Linked DNA regions of Homo sapiens. The protein of the gene in region 4 purifies or fractionates together with the protein of the main gene of each other region. This does not show direct contact. Each region holds a gene or a part of one and is shown on either strand. Other genes may lie near its edges.

Region 1 (3,500 bases), about 94 Mb from region 4:
AGGTAAAAAAGTCCAAGAATACTTTATGCACCAATGAGTGCTTAATCACAGCTTCCCTGAAAACAGAAAAAAAAAGCAAAAAGACACAACAGATCTGGCACTACAGTCATACAAAGACAGGTAATCTCAAAGTCCTAAAGTAATCTAAACAAGTGAAATGGTTTTACTGAATACAATTTGTCATAAAATAGACTGTATTTTTCAGAAATACTAAAACTTAAACAAAAATTTAGATGGTAAAATTGATTTAGTGCCATCTACAACCAAGACCAGAGTATAAACTTCTAGTATTTAATCGGCAAACATAAAATCAACATTTGAAATATGCTCTGCTCTATTAAATAAGGACATCTACATTTTTTCCCCCAGCACTGGACATAATGATTAGAAATCCACATGTGGATGTATTTTTTTAATAGTTGTTTTATTTCTGTTAACACCCTTCACAATCCATCTGTTTCACAAAATAATTTTAGCAGAATTAAAACTTGAATGAACCAAACATTGTCAGCAATTGCAACAACACCTACTTAATCCAAACCCCCTAGTGTGACACTTGGTGGATCCAGGTGTACAGTGGAGGCCGATGGTCAGGCATAAAAGACCTAAAGTTCACAGGTGATACCCAAGTAGACAGCAAAAACTAACACTGCCTTTATGGGCAAAGCACTGTTCTGAGTGTTTTGGAACAACCAACCCATTTAATCTTCACAAAATTCCTATGAAGTCTGTACTATTATTATCCCAATTTTACAAATATGGTAATTGAGGCACAGGGAGGTTAAGTTGCCAAAGATTGCAGTTAGTAATAGTTGGGGGAGTGGGGAACCAGGAGTCGTACCCAGGCAGTCGGGTCCCAAAAGCTATGCTCAGCCACTCCACTACTGGACAGATGCCATGAAGGGCACATGCACAGGCTTCCAAGTCTTACAATCCATTTTTTAATTTTTTTTTATTTTTTTAAAGCAAGGTCTCACTCTGTTGCCTAGGCTGGAATGCAGTGGCACAACCATGGCTCACTGCAGCCATGACCTCCTGGGCTCCAGTGAGCCTCCTGCCTCTCAGCCTCCCAAGTAGCCAAGACTATACACACATGCCATAAAGCCTGGCTAATTTTCTTATTTTTTCGTAGAGATGGGGTCTTGCTATTGCCCCAGATGGTCTTGAACTCCTGGCCTCAAGTGATTCTCCCAGCTTGGTTCCCCAAAGTGCTAGAATTATAGGCGTGAGCCACTGTACCTTGCCTACAACCAAATTTGAGTAACAGATTATATTTGTGAAACTGTTTAGTATACATGGCTTCCATGTAACATTTTATTTGGGGAAAGAATGTTTCATTGCTTAAAAAAGCTCATAAATCACGAATGCATGTTAGTTATCATTTTATAGGGTACAATATCAGAAAAAGAAATCTCCTTTTGCACCAAGAATGGTTTCAAACCAACACTTTTGCACTCTTATTTAGAATAGATTAATACTTGTAAGCAGGAAATAGCTACCTCTTCTGGGCAACAGTTATGGAAAACCTTCCTCCTTTGAATGTCATTTCTTAAGAACAAAACAAAAACAACTTTCTTACTTTTGGGCCATTGGAGTTAGAATCTGTTTCATTTCATCCATAATAAGTTCTAATTTTTCTGGCTGTACCTCTAACACTTTGTCCAGAGTTCGGTGATCTGCTGACTGCAACAAAACAAAACAATCAAACCCCTCTAAATTTAATCAATTTTTTCACTTCAGGAAAAAGAAAAGTAATTAGTCATTTTAAAATAAGTTTTAACAAATTTAAGATTTCCCATATTTACATAATGAAAGCTCTGCTGTATATCCTTGTGGAGTAACCTGATTAGCTGATTCTCAGTCTGTGTATCTATCAGTGCATTTAAAGAGCCAGGCCAACCAAGTTAACCAGCTAACAGTTACTTGCCAAGCACCTAGCTCTTGCCCAATTATGAGATCAAGTAGTCACTTCACAAATTCTTGCCACCATATGTTTTATAATTAGTTGGCTATTCCTATTAAATATAACGAACTGTTAACAAAATTAGTACAGCAACAAATTCAACCCAAGAATTGAACCTGGCTAATGGAGGCAACCCGGGAATCAATCCATATCCCTTCAGACACATGTGTGCATTTATGTTCCAAGGTTTGAAATAGATTCTTTAACCAGCTAGTCCCACTGCTAACTATTCTCAGATTCAATCCCTGTACTCTATCCAAGGTTAGGTCTCTCTGTTCCCCTTCATCTCCAGACACAATCTGAAGAAGGGCAATGCATGCACATGAAAAAACACAGGAGAAGCTAGCAACAGAGAGCCCAATACACTTCAGCCAGAGCTGGTTGGGGGTGGTCACACAACTTTGCTAACTATTGGGAGTCTTGTCCTTCAGTATGACTGTAAAAATAGAAGTATTGAAGTGCTACACACAGAGCACTCAGGAGAGGAACAAAGTTTGAATTGAAGGGGATTTAAAGCCAATGCTCTGGAGAAAGAGAAACTTGCTCACTATACCAGAAACAAAATAAAGCATGAGGGAAAATCAAGGGCATAAGATGGTCTCTTAAAGAACCAGCCACAGTAAAAATACATTCAAAAGATATATAGGGCACCGGAAGTTAAGGAAGAGCATATCGAAAAGTAAAAATACTAGAAAAAGACTTCTGGAGATGTCACCTTGTAAAGCTGAAATGTGTTCCCATAGAGCTCTTCCGTCAGCATGTTCCTCTGCTCCAAAATGGCTTTGTCATTGTATGCGTACTCCACGATGGCTGATGCTTCCGCATGCCGCAGCATCTTCCTCACGTGGCCTTTAAAACTTCTGATTATCTCTGCAATCTGTGGTTTACTTCTAAACGCAACACAATCATGGAAAAATAAATGATAGAAGGAGAAAGCTGGGTGACAATAAAACACAACTTACTTCTCCCAAGACCAACTCATCAATCTGTGTCACTCTGAGGAGTAAATGAGCTAGCATGCATTGAGAAGCTGTGGCCAGCACATAGTAAATGCTCAATAAATGTCATTTCCTATTAAACTGTTCTGCTCGAAAAAAACAGTAGGGCAGGAAAAAAGATAAAAGATTCAAGGAAATAGAAAATCATATTCTAAGATTCCTTTTGAAGATGGGACTTAATCACAAGTATTTTAACTATATCCTAAAAGAATTAAACAGCTGGAAACTACAGCTAGGAATACATTTTTGAAAATTTTGTCAACTGCATATATTACACTTTTTGTTGTTGATTATCATATTCTAGCACATTAATACACTCAAAAAGATTGGTCAAGACAAGTACTAATTCCACTTAATTTAGGAAATTCTCCCATGTTGACATTTTCTAACCCACTGACCCTCTATCAGTTTACTCACCTGTCCCTCCCCAGTCTCCACCCTCTTAATACTGGTGGCTAATTATAAGTTAATTATTCTATTTCTCTTCTTCCAGAGGTTCAAGATAAACATTCACAAATCATCCATCATGTAAAATTATT
Region 2 (3,500 bases), on a different chromosome or scaffold from region 4:
TGGTATATAACAGTAGTCCTAACTACATGGGAGGCTGAGGCAGGATGGTTGCTTGAGCCCAGGAGTTTGAGGCTGTGGTGAGCAATGACAGCACTACTGCAGTCCTGCTCGAGCTACACAGTGAGGCCCTGTCTCTAATGATAATAATGATAATAATAACAAAAGATTTCATTTTATTTCTCCAGTTTTCTAGTTGTGTAAAATGGGAGGATAAATCTGGTTTGCTTACTTCTTTGTGGATAAAAGCCATGTATACTTCCTGCTTTATACAAAGCCTTCTCCTATGGCTAAGATTTTTCTTTTACCATTCCCGTAGTCCCTATCTTTTTTTTTTTTTAATCCTGAATAACTTCTCTGTATGTTCAGGTCTCAGCTTAAAATTTACTTCTCTGGAAAACCTTCCCAAATCCTAAAACATATGGTAGGTGCTTTTTAAATATGCTTTTATAGCTCTGTATGCTTCTCCATGTTTTTATTGCCCTTAGATTTTAAGGTTTTTCAGGACAGGGACAGTGAATTTTTTTTGTTCATGGCTGTATCCTTTGGGGCTATCAGAAACTAAAGTCTGGCAAAGACTTGGTATCCAGAGGTCTCCTGAATGAGTAAGTGTTTAGAATATCAGTAATAGGAGGCATGTGTTACCTATACACTTTCTGAGCATAGATGAAATTTTTGTTTGTTATAATTCTTTTCAAATTCATTGAAAGTAACCATTCTGTTTTGTTCTTATTGAAATTTAAAAGATGACAGTAGTGCATTTTGATCTTGGTGGCAGTACTCAGTCTTCCAGAAGGTTTGCATTACTCTTGTGCTCAAGTATTCTGCATATTACAGAACCCATCTGAATGTTCACAATTCAGAAAAGCTTTCAGTTGTGTTTTCAAAACTGGTTTGTTCTATAGGCTTCCTTTAGACATTGAGGTGCTTAAAGGAAGTTTCTGATAAAATTCTAGTGATTCAAAAGAGAAGCATAGTATTTAATGTTTCTGTTAACAAAATTATTCTCAAATTTGTAAAAGAATGACCTTTTAATTAGAGTTCTTTAGGCAGTTTTTCTTTTCGTTGTTATTGTCAGAGTTTTAAAACTTGCTTTGGAAATTTTCTAACACATATATTTACCTTTCCTTCAAAGATTGAAGAATGAAAAGGCCTTGCGTCTCAACCTTGTTGGTAAGTGGGTTTACTTATTTGAAACTCTGGCTAGAGTATAGGGCATTTCTGCCCTATACTTGTTTTTCTTTTTACTCTTTTAGTGAAATACTGTTTTTATCAAAGTGAATTTGATCAGACTTGATCTAAACAAAGCAAATCAATCATTAAACTTTTGGAATAAACAGTGTTAATGATTTCTAGCTCAGTTTTCCAGAAACTGTTAGTTTATATTTATCTACCTACCTACCTGTCTACACATAACATTCATATCCATCTGTCCATCTATCTGATGTTTAACTCTACCTCCCTAACCATTAGAATTATGAAGGATTATGGCCTAGGTAGAAACCACAATTCATATTTATTTAATGATGTGGACATACACATCTTCAGTTTGTATCTCAGTGTCATGTCACTGTTTTTTTGGTCAGATTTATTGCTAATAATTTTTTACTCACAAATCTGAGATTTAAATACTGACTGTTAGGCTCTTTTATTAAAATTAAAGGTATTTGAACTCCCATCAATGCTTCATCAGGTAATAGAATAGTATTTTTAAATGGGATCTCATTGTACAGGGCCGGGTGATTTTTTTTGATCTGTAATCTTGAGAAATCTAACTGAAAGTGACCCTGACGGTCAGGTTTACTCACAAGGGTGAATTTTGTTGGCTCTTTGGTAATATATATCAATTACTCTACACAGTACCTGGCAGCTCTTATATGCTTAATGTATTTGCTAACTTTGGGGCCCTGGACAGGTCATTTAACATCTCTCATCTACAAATGGGGGTAATAATAGTACTAATTCTCATGGGATTATAAAGCTATTTACATAGTGCCTACAGCTTATTAAATACTCAGCAAATATCATTCTCATCATTAATGGAGTTTTCATTTTATTATTTTTGACAAGCTGTCCTTTGCTTTTAAATACTTAGAAGTTCAAGCTCGACTAAATAATCATTTTCCTTTTTTGCATCCATATTGGATAAGAAATATATACAGAAGCGCATCCCTCCCACTCCTCTTTCTTCTCTAAATTAAAATCTGACAGTTTAATTTGTGACAGACTGGTTTAATTAGCTTTGAGCCCACACAAGGCTTTATGTTTAACATTGACATAAATTTTGGTTCTGTTTTAAACACGTTAATGTTGAAAATGATAATGAATATTTACTTGCTTAAATGATGACTTGTGGGGTAAACTGTCTTGGTACTTGTTGTTTATAGGTGAAAAACTGCAATGGTTTCAAAATCATCTTGATCCCCAAAAAAAGAGATATTCAAAGAAAGATGCTTGTGAACTAATTGAAAGGTAAACACTGGGCATATTATGAGCAAAGGGTCAGAAAAGGGAATTGTCCAGCCTGGTTCTTTAAGACACAGAGCTCTGTTACGGATTTGCAGAAGAGCAAATGGGCTTTGTTATCAGGAAGACTATTTCCTGGCTTAGTCACTATAGGAGGTTTGTAACCTATTTGGGTCTCAGAGTGGTAGTTAGGCCACTTTCTTGGGATCAGGATGGGCTTCCTGGAGAAGTGTCATCTAAACTGGCAGCTGAAAGGTGGGGGTTAGCAGATCGAGGCAAGGTAGTTTGAAAAACCCCTAGCAAGAAAGAAGAATATTTAAAAATGCCCAGAAGTGAGAATGAAGATAACGTATTTAGTGATCTGCCAGACATTTAATATGACTAAAATAAGTTGAAGGAGGGAACTGTGGCAGGTACAATAAGTGATAGCTAGCTCATGAAAGACCTCAGATGTCAGTCTAAAAGTTGGGACCTTATCCAAGGACATTAGGAACCACAGGAGGCTTTTACAGCAAGCAACTGAAATGATCATACTTAACATTAGAAGGGACACATTGAGAATGAAGAAAACAGACTGAGAGGTTCATGACTCTGGTCAGGAAACCGTTGAAAGGTTGCTGTAACAATCCAGGCCAGAAATGATGGTGGCCTCAGCTTGGCTCATAGCCTGATAAAGAAGTGAAAGATTCCAAAGAAATTAAGAAGGTAGAAGTCTCAGTGTTCAGTGAAAACTTAGGTGTGGAATAAAAGGGATAGAGAGCAGTCAAGGAAGCCATCAGATTCCTCGTCTGGACAACTGTTTCCTGAGATAGGGAACCCAGGAGATGGAGGGGGTTTGGTGGGGGGTAGGTGGGGACAGGGTGATGACAAGTTCAGTTTTGATGTGCTAACGGTGAAGCCACTAGGGGACATCCAGATTGAGATGGTGGTTGAATGTGAGGGTCTGCAGTTTGATAGAAGGCTGCGATTTGGTCACTGAAGTTAAAGAAATGGTCGAGTTATCCAGGGAATGGGTAAAAGAGGTTTGAGGACCTGAG
Region 3 (3,500 bases), on a different chromosome or scaffold from region 4:
TTGTTCAATTTCATGGTTAAATTTACAGATAGAAAAGGTTTTCTTTATTATTTCTCTTTTGCCTTCTGAAATTGTTTTGCCTCAATTATAAAAAATAATCCATGATCATTGTAGAATATTAGAAAATATTAAAAATAGAAATCAAAATTTCCTATTTCTATCACGCAAAGACAAACGTTATGAACATTTTGGTACGTTTCTTTTTTTTTTTTTTTTTTTTTTTGAGACAGAGTCTCGCTCTGTTGCCCAGGCTGGAGTGCAGTGGCGTGATCTCGGCTCACTGCAAGCTCCGCCTCCCAGGTTCACGCCATTCTCCTGCCTCAGCCTCCTGAGTAGCTGGGACCACAGGCACCCGCCACCACGCCCGGCTAATTTTTTGTATTTTTAGTAGAGACAGGGTTTCGCCGTATTAGCCAGGATAGGATGGTTTTGATCTCCTGACCTCGTGATCTGCCCGCCTCGGCCTCCCAAAGTGCTGGGATTACAGGCGTGAGCCACCGCGGCTGGCCTGGTATGTTTCTTTCTAACTGCTCCTTAAATGGCATTTTTTTAAGTTGTGAACTAGATAAATAGTGAGCAGCCCCCATTTTATATAACAAATTAAACATGTCCCCATGTTTTAATAAATCTCCACATTTTCATGTATATGAGATATTTGATCTTTGCATCTTGTGGTTAAACTCACCATTTCTCATTTGGGTTTTCCCAGTTTTAAGATTTGAGTATCTTTAAGCATAACCTACTTATCTTCTTCTTAAGACCTTGTTGTTTCTAACTCTGCATCTTCACTTCTTTGGTGAGTTCAGATTCTGTGACTTTGTCCCTCAAGAAGCAAGATTTAGACCTACTTTGTCTGCTTTTTCTTTTATTTTAGAAATGCTGAGCCTGATGAACAGGACTTTGAGAAGAGCAATTCCCGAAAGCGCCCTCGGGATGCCCTGCAGAAGGAGGAGGAGATGGAGGGGGACTACCAAGAAACCTGGAAAGCCACGGGGAGCCGATCCTATAGCCCTGACCACAGGCAGAAGAAACATAGGAAACTCTCGGAGCTCGAGAGACCTCACAAAGTGTCTCACGGTCATGAGAGGAGAGATGAGAGAAAGAGGTGTCACAGAATGTCACCAACTTACTCTTCAGACCCTGAGTCTTCTGATTATGGCCATGTTCAATCCCCTCCATCTTGTACCAGTCCTCATCAGATGTACGTCGACCACTACAGATCCCTGGAGGAGGACCAGGAGCCCATTGTTTCACACCAGAAGCCTGGGAAAGGCCACAGCAATGCCTTTCAGGACAGACTCGGGGCCAGCCAAGAACGACACCTGGGTGAACCCCATGGGAAAGGGGTTGTGAGTCAAAACAAGGAGCACAAATCTTCCCACAAGGACAAACGCCCCGTGGATGCCAAGAGTGATGAGAAGGCCTCTGTGGTGAGCAGAGAGAAATCACACAAGGCCCTCTCCAAAGAGGAGAACCGAAGGCCACCCTCAGGGGACAATGCAAGGGAGAAACCGCCCTCTAGTGGCGTAAAGAAAGAGAAGGACAGAGAGGGCAGCAGCCTGAAGAAGAAGTGTTTGCCTCCCTCAGAGGCCGCTTCAGACAACCACCTGAAAAAGCCAAAGCACAGAGACCCAGAGAAAGCCAAATTGGACAAAAGCAAGCAAGGTCTGGACAGCTTTGACACAGGAAAAGGAGCAGGAGACCTGTTGCCCAAGGTAAAAGAGAAGGGTTCTAACAACCTAAAGACTCCAGAAGGGAAAGTCAAAACTAATTTGGATAGAAAGTCACTGGGCTCCCTCCCTAAAGTTGAGGAGACAGATATGGAGGATGAATTCGAGCAGCCAACCATGTCTTTTGAATCCTACCTCAGCTATGACCAGCCCCGGAAGAAAAAGAAAAAGATTGTGAAAACTTCAGCCACGGCACTTGGAGATAAAGGACTTAAAAAAAATGACTCTAAAAGCACTGGTAAAAACTTGGACTCAGTTCAGAAATTACCCAAGGTGAACAAAACCAAGTCAGAGAAGCCGGCTGGAGCTGATTTAGCCAAGCTGAGAAAGGTAACCCCTTCAGCCCCTTGGTGGCTTCCCACCCAGAGCACCTGGCCCTGCAGAGCTCAGAGGATTGCCCTGCCACTGTTTTCCTTAGCTTGCTTTTGGGGGGCATGTTGAATTTCAGTGTGCAGTAATTTCCTCTGGGCTTCACTGGTTGTCAGGGTATATGGTACCGCAAATAAGAATTTTCTGCATTATTCTCTTGTGATGGGCTCATCTGTATTTATTTCCTGACTGAGGTGGTGTCAGACATGACTGTGGCCCCCTCCAACCTGGATCTTCCTGTGCAAGATGTCCAGTTAATGCTCCCGGGAATAGACTGTAGGAAAGAGAGCTGTGCTTCTACTCACTGACTCTCCACCCATGGGTCTGTCCCCTGCAGGTGCCTGATGTGTTGCCAGTGTTGCCAGACCTCCCGTTACCCGCGATACAGGCCAATTACCGTCCACTGCCTTCCCTCGAGCTGATATCCTCCTTCCAGCCAAAGCGAAAAGGTAATTTTCTATATCTTCTTTTTCTTAATGGGAAAAAGATTTAAAAATTCATTCAAGGCAGGGTACAGTGGCTCACACCTATAATTCCAGCACTTTGGGAGGCCGAGGTAAGAGGATTGCTTGCGGCCAAGGGTTCTAAACCAACCAGGCGTGGTGGCTCACTCCTGTAATCCCAGCACTTTGGGAGGCCGAGGCGGGCAGATCACCTTAGGTAAGAAGTTCGAGATTAGCCTGGCCAACATGGTGAAACCCTGTCTCTACTAAAAATACAAAAATTAGCCAGGCATGGTGGTGCGTGCCTGTAATCCCAGCTACTCCGGAGGCTGAGGCAGGAGAATTGCTTGAACCTGGGAGGTGGAGGTTGCAGTGGGCCGAGATTACGCCATTGCACTCAAGCCTGGGTGACAAGAGGGAAACTCTATTTCAAAAAAAAGGAGTTCTAAACCACCCTGGTCAACACAGCAAGATGCTGTCTCTACAAGAGAAAAAAAGTAGCCAGGCATGGTGGCACATCCCAGGTACTCGGTAGGCTGAGGTGGGAGTATCACTTGAGCCCAGGAGTTCAAGGCTGCAGTGAGCTCTGATTGCATCACTGCACTCTAGCTTGGGTGACAGAGCAAGACTGTTTCAAAAACAAACAAAAAAACTATCACCATAACATCAGATTTTTGATGCATTTCCTAAGTGCATAGACTCTGAAGTTTGATGGCTTGGGTTTGAATCCCAACTCTGGTTTCTGCAAGTTATATGACCTTGAGAAATATCTTAATTTCTTTGGACCTTAGTTGTATATATTGTGTAAATGGGAGTTATAATGGTATCTGCCCCATAGGGCTCAGTTTAATGAATTCAGAAGTGATGCCTTTTTGCTCTGGGTTTATCACATAGTAATTGTTCAGTAAATTGCTGCTGCTGTTATTAGCAGCCCTTTATCCTATGTGTTACATAGGAT
Region 4 (3,500 bases):
CTATTTTTTCATGTCACATATAAAGATCTATTTTATCCTTTTTAAAGACTACACAGTCTTGCTACTAAAAAAGGGGGGAAACATGGGTTTGTGCAAGTGAACTATAATTTCCTCATTTCCACAGAATCCCTAAAGTGAGGGGAAAATAAATACCCAAATGCTTCCAAAAATAAGCAGCTCTGCTACAAGAAGCTTTGCAGAAACAAGGAGACTGTGCTTACTACACAGCAGATTTGAAGTAATCACCAAAAAAGGTGCAAAATTAAGGCTTTCTGTAAGTTTCTCCCTCCAACATGGTTGCAGATAGACTATCTCAATGTCTTGAATGTGTAACTTCCAGGTGAACAGTTCTGCATGAGTCATCACCTGCTCAGCCCACCCAGGCTAAGTTACTCTCTGCTGGACTTTTGTTTTGTTTTGTTTTTAATAGGCTCTATAGTATAGTTTTACAAAGCCACATTTTTTGGTTAAAACTTGTAGCCAGAATCCTAAATGGAATGGAATTAGCAGTCAAGAAGCAGAAAGAGTTTGGAAAAATGGCTCCCTTGACATATAACTGTTCACTATTCTAGTCTTCCTTAGCTTGTTTAACTTTATTTTCCTTGAAATGTGATTCACTACTTGTTTCTGTTTAACATAAACAGGTTTAATGATTAAACAAAGACTTTAAGCAGCAAGTGCCAAACATAAGACACAACCCCTCCCCGTGTTGAGGTGGAGTGCGGTGGCCACCATGCTGCCACATCACTAAGCAGCGACGCAACACTCCACCAGCCCACGACTTCTGTCCATGTTAGAGTACTTCGGAGAGCAGCCATGCCCTCCAGAAATTGGTATTACACATCATAACAGACTCTTCTTCAAATTTCATCATGGCAGCCTACTGACCTGACCGTGGAGCTAGGAATTTATTTCAATCCATTGAGCAGTCTAAATTGGTAATGTGAAATCAAAAACCATAATTATATCCCTAGTCCAAAATTATATCTCTAATCTAGAACTTCAAAAGAAAACCAGTTCAACACACTCCTGTGTAATTTCTTTTTAAGAGTGCTCTTCAGTTACCAACAAGCAATTCATTTTTAATTGTACAATCATTTCCTGAACCAAGACGTAAAGGCATCTATGAGGAAAAAGGAAGATCCTTCCCATCATCTAAGGTAACATGAATTGCACATAAATTAGTAAAACATTCCTAGGACTGGTACCACAAAAAGCAGTAGCCAGTAGAAAGTTGTATTTTCTGGGCCGGGCATGGTGGCTCACTCCTGTAATCCCAGCACTTTTGGCAGGCCAAGGCAGGTGGATCACCTGAGGTTGGGAGTTCAAGACTAGCCTGACCAACATGGAGAAACCCCGTCTCTACTAAAAATACAAAATTAGCCGGGCGTGGTGGCACATGCCTGTAATCCCAGCTACTTGGGAGGCTGAGGCAGGAGAATTGCTTGAACCCGGGAGCGGAGGTTGCAGTGAGCCGAGATCGCACCATTGCACTCCAGCCTGGGCGACAAGAGCGAAACTGTCTCAAAAAAAAAAAAAAAAGAAAGAAAGAAAAGAAAAAGAAAGTAGCATTTTCTCAAAACCTTTCTGGTTCCCCACCCGCCCTGCTGAGGACTGCAGCACATACTTTTCATCTGGAAACTTCTCAGCTGTGAAGTCTGCCTGCCTCTCTGTCTCATAGGGTCGGTATTCCCTGTAGGATCTCCGCTCAGCTCTTTCGAGCATCCCCTCCGGCCCACGGCTGTCATTCCATCCTTGCTGCTCCCCTCTTCTAGGAGTCCGCTTCTGGCCTACCAACAGAAAATCAAAGCAGAGAGCTGGAACACAACATCTGCAACAGCACACTATTAAACTTTACAGGTACTTGTAAATTTCATTTTTCTAGAAATCAACGTCATAGGAGAATTCAGGAAGTTTAGAAAACTTCAAAGAAAAAAGTTGCTGATACTACAACTGCCCACAGTCTACTTTTTAATAGGATGTTACTATTAAATCATGCTTTCCCTATATCCTAGAAAGTATATGACCAACTAAGCTCACCTATAATTACAGGCATCTCCCAATAACTGTGACAGCCATGGGTACATTTTACTAAATAAGCTACAGTTCACAAAAGCAGTCTTACAAAAACACAGTGTGTAAGCCGTACCTAGAAAATGAAAGAATACCCTATATTTCAGACTGTACTTTTAGAATCCCAACTGCACATTACATAGCAACTATGGCTTATCACTGGCTACTAAGGTTTTTGTTTTTATTTTGTATTTTTTTAATTTATTTACTTAATTACTTATTTTGAGACAGAGTCTTGCTCTGTCACCCAGCCCGAAGTGCAGTGCACTGTTTAATCTTGGCTCACTGCAATCTCCGCCTCCCAGGCTCAAGCAATTCTCATGCCTCAGCCTCCCAAGATGCTGGAATTACAGGCATGTGCCACCATGCCCAGCTAATTTTTGTATTTTTAATAGAGACAGGGTTTCACCATGTTGGCCAGGCTGGTCTCGAACTCCCAGCTTCAAGCAATTCACCCACCTCACCCTCCTGAAGCACTGGGATTACAGGCATGAGCCTCAGCGCCTGGCCAAGGTTTTTGTTTTTAAAGTTTGTAGTGCTTATATTTTTACTTTGAAAACAGATTTTCCTGCTATTCTATGAGATATATAGACTTGCAGTTATAACTTCCTGAATATGAACCAAACACTGCTATTTGGCAACTTGCCCAAGAGTCAGCCAGTACTTGAGGGCATCTCTTTTTGTCCACTCAGTCCAGCACTTGGACACTGTGCTGGGACCACAGACTCTGGTTTTGTTCTTGTGTTTTTTTTTTGAGACTGAGTTTCACTCTTGTTGCCCAGGCTGGAGTGCAATGGCCCGATCTCGGCTCACTGCAACCTCCGCCTCCCGGGTAGAGATTAGCTGGGATCACAGGCCTGCGCCACCACGCCTGGCTAATGTTGTATTTTCAGTAGAGACGACGTTTCTCTAACCTGGTCAGGCTGGTCTCCTCAGCCTCCCAAAGTGCCAGGATTACAGGCGTGAGCCACCGTGCCCGGCCGAGACTCTGGTCTTTTCCTCTGTCCTGTCACCTTGCTTTACTCCCCTTTAGTTTTAATGCTTTAAACATCTTAAGCAAAGTCTATGTTTGAAGCCATCTAATACTTGGTAAATACATTGTGGAGAACTTTGTCACATCTTTAATCTTCAAAAAAAGTCTATCTTTTTTTATATACATTTAAAAGATCTCCTCTCACTATGTGCAATATTTACTATAGTGGCTTCAATTTTTCTTGGTACAAATTACTCTCCACATTAGTTGTATAGCTATGACATTTATTCAAGTTAATGGATATATATATATATATATATATATATATATATATATATATATTTTTTTTTTTTTTTTTTTTTTGAGATGGAGTCTTGCTCTGTTGCCCAGGCTGGAGTACAGCGGCGCCATCTCGGCTCACTGCAAGCACCGCCTCCCGGGTTCACGCCATTCT
Region 5 (2,331 bases), on a different chromosome or scaffold from region 4:
GCAGAATACAACTGAGGACTGCTGCCCACAGCCACTGCACCCCTGACACCCAGAGCCACCACCCGCCCACCTCCCTCCCATAGGGCTGGGACAGAACACCAACTCATCCAGTGGTCTAATGGCTGTGGACCCCAGGGGAAACCACAGGTGCCCAGTGCAGCCAGGGCTGGTGGGGAACAGAAGGCCTGCGCCCAGGCCCCACCCGGACCACTGCTGACACCATCGCTTTGGGAAGAGCTACCTCGGAGCAACTCCTGCTCCAGCCTGTCTGCCGCCTTTTCCTCCTTTTTCCGTCGGACTTTATCTAGTCGCCGCTTCTGGAACCTGGGGAAGAAAGCACATGTCACTCAGATTCCTAAATTCTCTTTCCACCCAGGGAGGAGGCAGAGGCCGCCCCACCCACAAGGGATCCCCTGTGGCAGAGCAGGGACCCAAGAACAGGTGGCTGCCTCCAAGTCCCCGCTCCCCTTACCACCCCAAAACCCACAGCTGCCCACCAAAGAAGGCTCTGACCCCAACAGGCCCCTCACAGGTCCCCCAGTGGTTCTCAGCTGGGGACAGCTACCTGCCAGGGAACATCTGACAATGTGTGCAGACACGTGGGCAAGGGCTACTGGCACCTTGTGCACGAAGGCTGGGAAGGCTGCCAAAGACCACCCAACAGAGACTCATCCAGCCCATCCGGTGCTGCTGTGTCTAAAGGGCCTAACAAGCATTGTATATCACGTCTCCCTCAATGTGAATCTGGAAGCTTCACCTTCAGCGACAGCTCTGGAGATCACCGTGGCGCCAGGCTGTATCTGGGCCACGTTCTCTGTGATGAACTTTCACTGGCTAAGGTAACTATAAGTAATACAACAATCCAGAAACAGGGAATCTACAGAGCTGAAAGCAACCTCTCAAACCTTCAAAGCTTTTTTTTTTTTTTCTTTTTTTTGAGATGGAGTCTCGCTCTGTCACCAGGCTGGAGTGCAGCGGCACGATCTCAGCTCACTGCAACCTCTGCCTCCCGGATTCAAGCGATTCCACTGCCTCAGGCTCCCAAGTATCTGGAATTACAGGCATGCACCACCACGCCCGGCTAATTTTTTTTTTTGTATTTTATTAGAGACAAGGTTTCACCGTGTTGGCTAGGATGGTCTCGATCTCCTGACCTCGTGATCCACCTGCCTCAGCCTCCCAAAGTGCTGGGATTACAGGCGTGAGCCACTGTACTCGGCCAAAGCTTTTAGAGAATTAGGAAGGTGTAGTCTCTTGGACGAGAGACATTCTGTTCTAATGGAAACAGAACCCCTGGGCACGTCACCCTCAGACCGACCCCCTCAGGGCTGATTCCCACAGGGCTAGGGCTTTCTGGTGCTTTTCCTGTGAAAGCAAGGACCAAGCGAGGTCTCCGCAGAGTTCCCAGGTTCCGCAGCCTCCTGGAGGCCACACCCTCACTGGCTCCCAGCTGGATGCTCCGACTCGCCAACTCCCAGGGCTCTGGCTTGGTCTCCCTGAATCCAGGCTGCCCCATGGCTATGAAACAGGGTACCTGCAGAGGGCCGTCATGGGAACCCAATGTCTTCCCTCCGGCTCCCAGGGCAGACCCCTCCCCCTCCCGCCTCCACTCACGCTTTTTTTGCTTTTTTCTGCTCAGACTTCTCCTTGGGAGCTGCCTGCACCTCTGGCTGCCGGATGGCCTGGTTCTTGCTGAGGAACAGCACATGCTGGGCCTCTTGCTGCATGCGGTGGATATAGGCCCCGTCAGACTCCCCCTTCCTCTGTTTGAACTTGGGGACTGCGATGTCGGGCTCCTCTCCCTTTGCTTCCTTCTCCAATGTCTTTCTGAAGGTCACCTGGGCTGAGGACAAAGGGAGGCCTCAGAGGAGGCAGGAGGCAGACAGTGGCAGGCAGGTGACCCATGCTCATTTCCCCTCCCAAAGCCACAGGAAGGGAAGACCAGGCTGGCTGGAAGCACCCCAACGACAGCAGCTGAAGAGGATGTAGAATGCCCGGCCCGGCATCCCCGGGGACGTGACCCCCCAGCCCAATGGCACCTGTCACAGATGTCCACTGCAGCACAGCTGAAAAAGGAAAGCAGAAACAACCTAATGTCCACCCCTAGGTGGCTGGTTGAATGAATTCTCCTCTGATCACCCACAGACTCCATTGCACAGCTGCCGAAAGAAGCCCAGTGGAGCTACACAGAGAAACGTGGGCAGACCTGCCGGGCGCGGTGGCTCATGCCTGTAATCCCAGCACTTTGGGAGGCCAAGATGGGCAGATCACAAGGTCAGGAGATTCAGACCATCCTGGCTAACACGGTGAAACCCTGTCTCTACTAAAAAC
Region 6 (4,281 bases), on a different chromosome or scaffold from region 4:
AGCACCCTCATCTAAAAAGGCTGCACAGCCCCTTCATGCCCTCTCTGCTTCTCCTGAAGTAGCCTTTGAGCCTCAGGCCTTATATGAGCCAAATAATATACTACAATGTGTATGTCTGAGCCATAACCCATGGTAAAGAGGGCACAAGCAGCCTGCCTCCTGCTGCTTAACAGGAAGGGCAGGACCCAAGTGACTGAGAATATGGCACTGTGGATAGAAAGCGCAGTGCTTTCCATCTACATGCCAAAGTCTTCTACCTGCAGTTGGCATCTGGAAGCCCACAAGACATATACCTCATATACCTCCATGCCCTCCACCCACAGGCCAGTGGCTTCCAGGATAACAAAAGAATTCTGTTCTATCTTGTCTTAGCTATATTGAATATTTGGGAATGAAAACTGCCTGCAAGACTCATCTTCATCAACAAAGCACCATCACCATTACCACTACGAGGAGTATTAGCACCGTCATTTTGCAAATGTCTGCCAATAACATTGAAGTGTCAACCATTTACTTGGGTAAGCCATTTGGCAATCAGACCCCATTCTCTAACCACTCCTGTGTGACCTTGGACAAAGAATTTAACCACTCTGAGTTTCAGTTTTTCAATCTATAAAACGGAGCTAATACTACCTGCATCCTAAGGCCACTGTAAAGAGCAAATATAATAACATGTAAAGCATCTAGTCCACAGCTCAATAAATGTGAAACTACAAGGTTTTCTTCACCCAATCATTCCCAGAAAAACCTTGTTGGATGAAACTAGCCACCACTATTCACTAAGTGTTTCTCCCTTTGGAAGCTCTCGGAGCCTTAGGTCTCCACATTTTCTATCGTAAGGACATGAACCTTTCGCTTCTAATCTGTTCCTCCGGAATCAATCTATTCAACCCAACCCTTCTCTCCCTCCACACCATCACTTTTTCTTTTTGATATCATCGATATTAATATACATATGATTTTTTTTAATTGTAAGGAGGACTTCCCCAGCTATGTGATGAAATAACACTTCTAGGAATATTAAATGAGCTGGTCAAGAAATGAAGGTACTACCGTCTTTGCAACTCTGCCCTGCAATTTCCTATCATGTTTCTTCAGCACCTTGACCATGTGTTGACATCCAGTTTGTTTGCTCTTGAGTCAGGTCCATAATCTTGTAACTTCCTGAGTTGACTCATCAGAGCTTGTAATTGTAACCTGGATGTTTCCTGGGTCTTTTACATCGTCCTGGCCATCCCTCTCTCTAAGTTTGGCCATCCTCATTATGGCCTTACAGGCACAAGACAGGACCAACTTTGACAGGCTAGCTGGCTTCCAAGTGCTCACCTGAGACTACAATGGCAAAGAGCAGTTGAAAATAACTTGCTTAGGTTGCAGGGAAAGTTCCTCCCCAGTTTAGGACCAAGTTTCATGCAAATTTGCCGCCATAAACTATAAAAAGTCACAAACATTTTCAAAGCTGGATAAAATGTCTATCGTAACTATCCTACAAATGTAAGTGGTGGTATTGGTGTTCTATCTTTCACCCACTGCTATTTAATCTGCACAGGAAATTAGGAACTATCTCGTTCACTTCAAACATTTACTGAGTCTCTAGTATGCATCAGGCACTATTAGGTGTCTTCTTAAATATTTCTAATTTTTACAACCCATCTGTACTTTCTTAAGATGAGGTGGTTGGAGAACTGAAAGGTTAAGAAACTTTCCCAACGTCACAGAGCCTTTCGATGGTAGGGCAGGAAAGGGAACCCAGCCCTGTCTGACTCCCAAGTTGGCATTCTTTCCCTAAGGAACGTTAAGCACCTTCAAAACACCAGTCACATCTTGTATTTACTTTTCTATTCTTCACAATGTCAAGCCGTTGGCGAGGCCTTAATTCCTGCCTACCTTCTCGACAGCTCAAAAAACACGGTTTTAAACGTCCTTCACTGCTCCACTCATACAAGATGAGCTTCCACTCACAGGATAGCGAGACTAAGGAGCCTGACCATCTTTCCATTTTGTTTCGGGTGGCCTCGAAAAGTAGACATTCTCGGACATGCTCCTCCCCAGCTGAGCGACTACTTTCTGTTTCCTTTCCCGAGTCTGGGAAGAGACGCGGCGGCCACCCTGCCCTGGCCTCCGACTACCTGTCTTCATGAGCGTCTCGGCCCCCTGCCCGGGCCCCCTCGCCCCTCTGCTGTCCCGCGCGGTCCAGGGAGAGGAGACTCTCGGTCTCCGAATCCCCTCAAGTGGGGACCCGAAGAACGGGGAGGGGCACTGAGCGGGGACAGGGAACGCGCGGAGCGCAGCTGGCATCGGGCGCCCCCGTTCCACGTGGCAGAGCCGAGGGGTTACGATCTCGGCGGGAGACGGGAGGGCGGGAGGCTGGGTTGGCGACGCGGGGGAGCCAAGGTGGGTGCGGGGACCATGGGGACGGCCCCTCGCGCCGCGAACCCCCGCACGTCCCGGAGACTAGCAGGTGGGCGGGCTCGGCCCCTTCTTCCCGTTCCGCGCTCCCCGCGGACAGGGCGGCCGCTGGCCCCGCCGTCGCCCGGGAGACTGCTCGGCCAGCCGCCCGCTCCCCTCAGCGCCCGCCGCCGCCGCCCGGGCCTACCTTGCTGGTGAGGTCCAGCTCTGGCTCGCCGTTGAGCGCCTCGCCGTCCTCGCTGCAGTCCGAGTCAAAGCCGCCGTGGAGTCGGGCGGCGGCCGCCGCGGCCCTGGCCGCCCCCGGGGAGCTGGGCTCGGGGGCGAACATAGAGGCCGGGACCGGCGAGTCCATCGCGGAGCGACTGCGCTCCGTCGCCATCTTTAATAACTTAGGCTAATTCGTAGCCGGCTTCCCTCCCTCCCAGGCTCATTTGACTAATCTATGCACAGAGCCCCGCCCCGCTCCTTATCGGAATAATTTATGCAAAACTCCAGCCGCGTACTGGGTGACACGTACCTCTAGCTAAGAAACAGTCGACTAGGCCTCTCAGCCACCAATCCCTGCAGAGCTTTCAAGTACCTAATGAATAATTAATGAGGCCCAAATCCCAACAACAAATGTCTGAGACGTCACGCGCCCTGCTCCCAGCTTGGGAGGGGGCAGTACCGAGTCCCCGCTACCCGCCTGAAGCCTTCCCGCCAACGGAAGCAGAGAAGTGTCTGACTGACACAGCAGCCATCCAATGAGGAGAGAAATACAAACAACGTTACTCGTCAACGCCCCTTCACTCTCCTTGTTTCCAGAGGCGGTACTAAGCCTGCAAATCTTACTGCAAAACAGTAGGCGCTGTAAGCCTTCCGATGACGGACAAGGGCAGGACCCAATCGAGTCATAGAACAGGTCCCGCGCCTGGACCTGCTCATGGAGATAGTAAACTGCAAAATGAGCCTCCCACTCGATTCAGTGACTGAGGCAGTTGCTGGAACGCCGATGTCCAACGTGCTGGCATGCTCCAGGCAACTTTAATAGTAGGATCGATGCTGTAAGTTCCAAGAGTTGTAATACTATAGCAGCCAGAGTGAGGCAATAATTAAATGCTGACCTTAGGGAGAATTCTCCATTCACTGCCTTTGCGGAGGCAATCACACGAACTAAAAACAGAGGCAAGCAGCTAAAATTAAAAGCCAAAAAACACCTCACCACTTTTGTGGTGAACTGCTAAACCGAAATCTAGGGTCTCATAAGGTAGTTTCCTATGGATTATTTTTCCAGTGTCATCAGTTGTGAAAAGCCCCAACCCAAAATGCCATCAACACACGTTTTAGTGTCTTGAATTCCTGTTTCAAAAGCCGGAAAAGCCTAGGCCGTCATTGTTTGGCGAAATTAGGGATTAACCAACGTCTATGAATGTCGGCCTTGGCCACTCGAACCAGGCATCAAGCAAACAAGAGCATGTTTGAGAAGATAAGGAATCCAAGACTTAGGGTTTGGACCTAAACCCTAAATCTTTAGTGAGCAAGTGGCAGGATTGAAAATGGCTTTCAGTTTTGGGGATCTACCTGAGAAGAAAGAGACAGTCTCTTCTTGTCCCTGTTTTCCACTACTATCAAGTCTTATTTGCACAAACACAGCTGGGAATCTTGGACAGGAAGTCATCTGATTCCAATGGTCTTGATACTGTTCTTATGTGCTTTTTAATTTCTTCCTTGCCAAATTGCTCACCTCCATCCTATATGGGCCGGGAGCAATGGCTCACACTTGTAATCCCAGCACTTTGGGAGGCTGAGACGGGTAGATCACCTGAGGTTAGTAGTTTGAGACCAGCCTGGCCAACATGGTGAAACGCTGTCTCTACCAAAAATTAGCTGGGC
Region 7 (3,500 bases), on a different chromosome or scaffold from region 4:
TTTTCAAAATTCTAAGTATGTATTAAAAATAAACCTATTAATACATTAATAGTATCTTTAAATGAAAGTTATTTCTAAAACAAACAAAAATGAACAGGAAGAGTGGCCCTGTTGTACATTTTTGCAAATTTCTGGCATAACCGAAGACAGCTCCATGTTCATGTCTACTTCTGCCCTCAATCTGTTCCCATAGAGTGTTTCAGCTAAAACATGTCATCAAAATCTTGCCTCACACAGATAGGTCTTTAGAATGGAGTATTGTAACCATCTTCACATAACTGGATGTTCACTGATACTACACCAACTCTCGCCAAGGAGCAGTTTCATAAAAGTTAGCTGAAACAGAATTTGCAGCCTTTGTCAAGGAACTTCTCCCTTTCTTTCATGAAAACTGACTGCTGTGTTCACTCTGAACACGTCCTTGCACTCTGGACCCATGTGCATGCTGTTCACCTGGATGACACGGGTTCAAGTAACAGACAGATTCTCAATGTCCACACATCTCATCGGATAGCATAAAACAAACATTTTTTTTCCTGTTGCCCAGGATGGAGTGCAGTGGTGCAATCAAGGATCACTGCAGCCTCAGCACCTCCCCCACCCACACCACCGCCAGGCTCAAAGCGGTCTTCCCACCTCACCCTCCCCAGTAGCTGGGACTACAGGTGCATGCCACCATGCCCAGGTAATTTTTGCATTTTTTTTTGTAGAGACAGGGTCTTACTATGTTGCCCAAGCTGGTCTCAAACTCCTGGGATCAAGTGATCTACCCACCTCCGCCTTCCAAAGTGCTGGGATTACAAGTGTGAGTCACCTCACCTGGCCGATAATGTCGGGTCCAATCTCCAAGAAGACTTTAATTACTAGAAAGCCATCAGGTTTACAATGGCAGATACAAGTTTTCTAAAATTCCAATTTTCACCCCAAAGCTCAAATTTTATCCTTAGCAACAAATACTGTTCGTTTTTTCTTTGAGACATCACTCGTTTTGGACAAAACGCCTGCCACATGCTGAGTCTGAAAACTGTCCTCCGTCTGTTGTTCTGTCAGGGACAGACAGCGTTTCCGAGACCACTCGGCTCCCAGCTCAATCCCCTAGGGCTGTGCGTGGACAGTACCACGTGGGGATGCAGCAGAAGCTTTATATATAACTTGACATTTAATCACAGCGAAAGTAAAAAAGATGTATGTTTGCGGGTTCCGAAAAAAATTAATATTTACTGCATCATCAGGGACATTATTTGGGAAAATTGGCATATTCTAAACATTCGGTGCCCATGCACGGTGCTGAAGAGGGCTCCAATCTGCCCTGTGCCACCGATGCAAATGTCAAACTCACCAGAAAAGGCCTGTACTATTAGACTATTATTATGCAGAAGTCATCTTTACCTCTTAGCCCCAGAAAGGGCTTCAAGGACTTCCCCCTCAGGAGTCCATGAAACACAAAGAACTGTGGCAACATGCCATTTCTACCAGTTTAGGAGTACACTGGATATGTGCAAAGCAGTAATACATACCTATGCTTCAGACATCAGAAGAGACTTTAAACATTTCCTTCCACAAGGGTTCTGTAACTACCTGTTAATCTTCCCTCAGATTCCCCAACTCACCAAAACAGTAAGCAGCCAAAAGTGAAATTTCTTAAAAACCAAATAAAAATATCTTCCCAAAAGGTCAGCTCTGTTACTTTAAAAAGCCTAACTGCAACTATTACAATGCATGGGTTTGCAACCACTGCAAATCTGTATGCTCAACTTTTACTACTCTAAAATCTGCTTGAAGTCATTAACTCAAGCGTGCCCACTTCCAGGTTGTGGTACAGCTGCATGATCAGGGCTCACTGCAGCCTCTACCTCATAGGTTCAAACGATCCTTCTGCCTCAACCTGAGTAGCTGGGACACCACTGGCGTGAGCCACAGTGCCCAGCTCCCACCTAAAGATTTTCAGTTCCAAAAACTTGAGACTAGTTTCTGAGTAATTAATCTCCAAGACACTTTAAAATATGACATACAACCATAATTAAGTTTCTATTTTCATAACATCGCACCTCCAGGAAAAGAGCTCTGACTTCTAAGCAAAAAGATAAAACAAAAATGCATAGTTTACCTCACCTAGTGGCAAACATTCTGTTTCTTCAAACCTCACATTCCCCTGAAACAATATTCAAAACAATTTTAACCCGCCAGTCAGAAATTATAATGCTACAATAAAACCTCACTATTCTAAACTTCATTATTTTCGCTAATTCTGACAGGGTAGGCCAAAGTTTACATTTATTTATATTTTGCCTATTAAGGGTCTCCTGGCTCATCAATCTGTTTATTATGCAGATGAGGAGCAACTGAGAAGACACTAGGTAAAAGATCTTTAAACTACCACAAATGAAGGAAAGATTACCCAATGAAAGACTCTTGATAGCTCAGTTTTCATTAATGCGACAGTCACTAGGAGAATATGCCTAGAAACTTCAGATGACATCCCCAAATGCGACGTGTTCTCCAGCCACCAGCAGCAGCCGTTCATGTACCATGATGGCCCACTCAAAGCTCCACCAGCTTGCGGCAGGAAACACTGTGCTGCACTCACCAAACAGGAAAGAGATTTGGGCCCACAAGGAACTGAAGAAGCCCAACTTTCATTTACTTTAGTATCTATGCAGAATCTGACTCAATTGCATAGATTACATTTAAATCCTTCAGACGGCAAATTCAAAGTTTTGCTGCTTACCAAATAATACCGTCATTACAAAAATTATTCTGGGCCGGGTGCGGTGGCTCATGCCTGCACTTCGGGAGGCTGAGGCAGGTGGATCACCTGAGGTCAGGAGTTTGAGACCAGCCTGGCCAACATGGTGAAATCCCCATCTCTACTAAAAACACAAAAATTAGCAGGGCTTGGTGGCAGGTGCCTGTAGTCCCAGCTACTTGGGAGGCTGAGGCAGGAGAATCACTTAAACCCGGGAAGCGGAGGTTGCAGTGAGCTGAGATCGTGCCACTGTACTCCAGCCTGGGCAACAAGAGCAAAACTCCCTCTCAAAGAAGAAAAAAAAAAAGCAGCAAGGGTGCCACAACACAGTATGTTTCTCACAAAGAAAATGTAGAGAAAAATCCAGAAACAACCTATTGTTGTTTTACATTTCTTGGGTATTTGTGTTTTTATAGATACGCGGAGACAAAAAGCAAAACTTGTTACTGAAAAACCTGCTGAGGACTAATGCTTTGGCCAGCCCCCGGCTACAGCCGGGCCGCCAAGCTCCCCATGTGAGCTTGCAACAATCCTGCCATTTCCCTCTATCTACTTCCTAGTGCAAAACACAGGCTGGTGACCTTGGTGGGCAACTCAGGTGGGAAATTTCAACTCTCCAAATGAATGCCAGGAACCAGAAACAGTCACATAAAATCATTTATCGAGGTGAAGGAGAAGTGAGGTTTATTGTTCTCTATTTAATGGCTGGACATAAAGTCTCCTAAACCACTACCTTTGATGGACTCCTCTTGTC

The links.
Region 1: the proteins of HABP4 (region 4) and PUM3 purify together in Homo sapiens (affinity purification with mass spectrometry, with the first as the bait; one large-scale study listed by BioGRID). This does not show direct contact.
Region 2: the proteins of HABP4 (region 4) and TMA16 purify together in Homo sapiens (affinity purification with mass spectrometry, with the first as the bait; one large-scale study listed by BioGRID). This does not show direct contact.
Region 3: the proteins of HABP4 (region 4) and ELOA purify together in Homo sapiens (affinity purification with mass spectrometry, with the first as the bait; one large-scale study listed by BioGRID). This does not show direct contact.
Region 5: the proteins of HABP4 (region 4) and CCDC137 purify together in Homo sapiens (affinity purification with mass spectrometry, with the first as the bait; one large-scale study listed by BioGRID). This does not show direct contact.
Region 6: the proteins of HABP4 (region 4) and GTPBP1 purify together in Homo sapiens (affinity purification with mass spectrometry, with the first as the bait; one large-scale study listed by BioGRID). This does not show direct contact.
Region 7: the proteins of HABP4 (region 4) and DIDO1 purify together in Homo sapiens (affinity purification with mass spectrometry, with the first as the bait; one large-scale study listed by BioGRID). This does not show direct contact.

Annotation. Positions count from the first base shown.
Region 1 is NC_000009.12:2,827,096-2,830,595, forward strand, and holds part of PUM3 (pumilio homolog 3), read right to left. Parts: intron 2,854-3,500; coding exon 2,679-2,853; intron 1,684-2,678; coding exon 1,580-1,683; intron 57-1,579; coding exon 1-56. UniProt on the Homo sapiens protein: Inhibits the poly(ADP-ribosyl)ation activity of PARP1 and the degradation of PARP1 by CASP3 following genotoxic stress. Binds to double-stranded RNA or DNA without sequence specificity. Involved in development of the eye and of primordial germ cells.
Region 2 is NC_000004.12:163,511,690-163,515,189, forward strand, and holds part of TMA16 (translation machinery-associated protein 16), read left to right. Parts: intron 1-1,132; coding exon 1,133-1,170; intron 1,171-2,384; coding exon 2,385-2,469; intron 2,470-3,500. UniProt on the Homo sapiens protein: Involved in the biogenesis of the 60S ribosomal subunit in the nucleus.
Region 3 is NC_000001.11:23,749,971-23,753,470, forward strand, and holds part of ELOA (elongin-A), read left to right. Parts: intron 1-874; coding exon 875-2,060; intron 2,061-2,436; coding exon 2,437-2,548; intron 2,549-3,500. UniProt on the Homo sapiens protein: SIII, also known as elongin, is a general transcription elongation factor that increases the RNA polymerase II transcription elongation past template-encoded arresting sites.
Region 4 is NC_000009.12:96,456,669-96,460,168, reverse strand, and holds part of HABP4 (intracellular hyaluronan-binding protein 4), read right to left. Parts: intron 1,791-3,500; coding exon 1,628-1,790; intron 1-1,627. UniProt on the Homo sapiens protein: Ribosome-binding protein that promotes ribosome hibernation, a process during which ribosomes are stabilized in an inactive state and preserved from proteasomal degradation.
Region 5 is NC_000017.11:81,669,737-81,672,067, reverse strand, and holds part of CCDC137 (coiled-coil domain-containing protein 137), read right to left. Parts: intron 1,844-2,331; coding exon 1,615-1,843; intron 325-1,614; coding exon 242-324; intron 1-241.
Region 6 is NC_000022.11:38,704,463-38,708,743, reverse strand, and holds the start of GTPBP1 (GTP-binding protein 1), read right to left. Parts: upstream 2,801-4,281; 5' UTR 2,789-2,800; coding exon 2,597-2,788; intron 1-2,596. UniProt on the Homo sapiens protein: Promotes degradation of target mRNA species. Plays a role in the regulation of circadian mRNA stability. Binds GTP and has GTPase activity.
Region 7 is NC_000020.11:62,916,506-62,920,005, forward strand, and holds part of DIDO1 (death-inducer obliterator 1), read right to left. Parts: intron 1-3,500. UniProt on the Homo sapiens protein: Putative transcription factor, weakly pro-apoptotic when overexpressed. Tumor suppressor. Required for early embryonic stem cell development.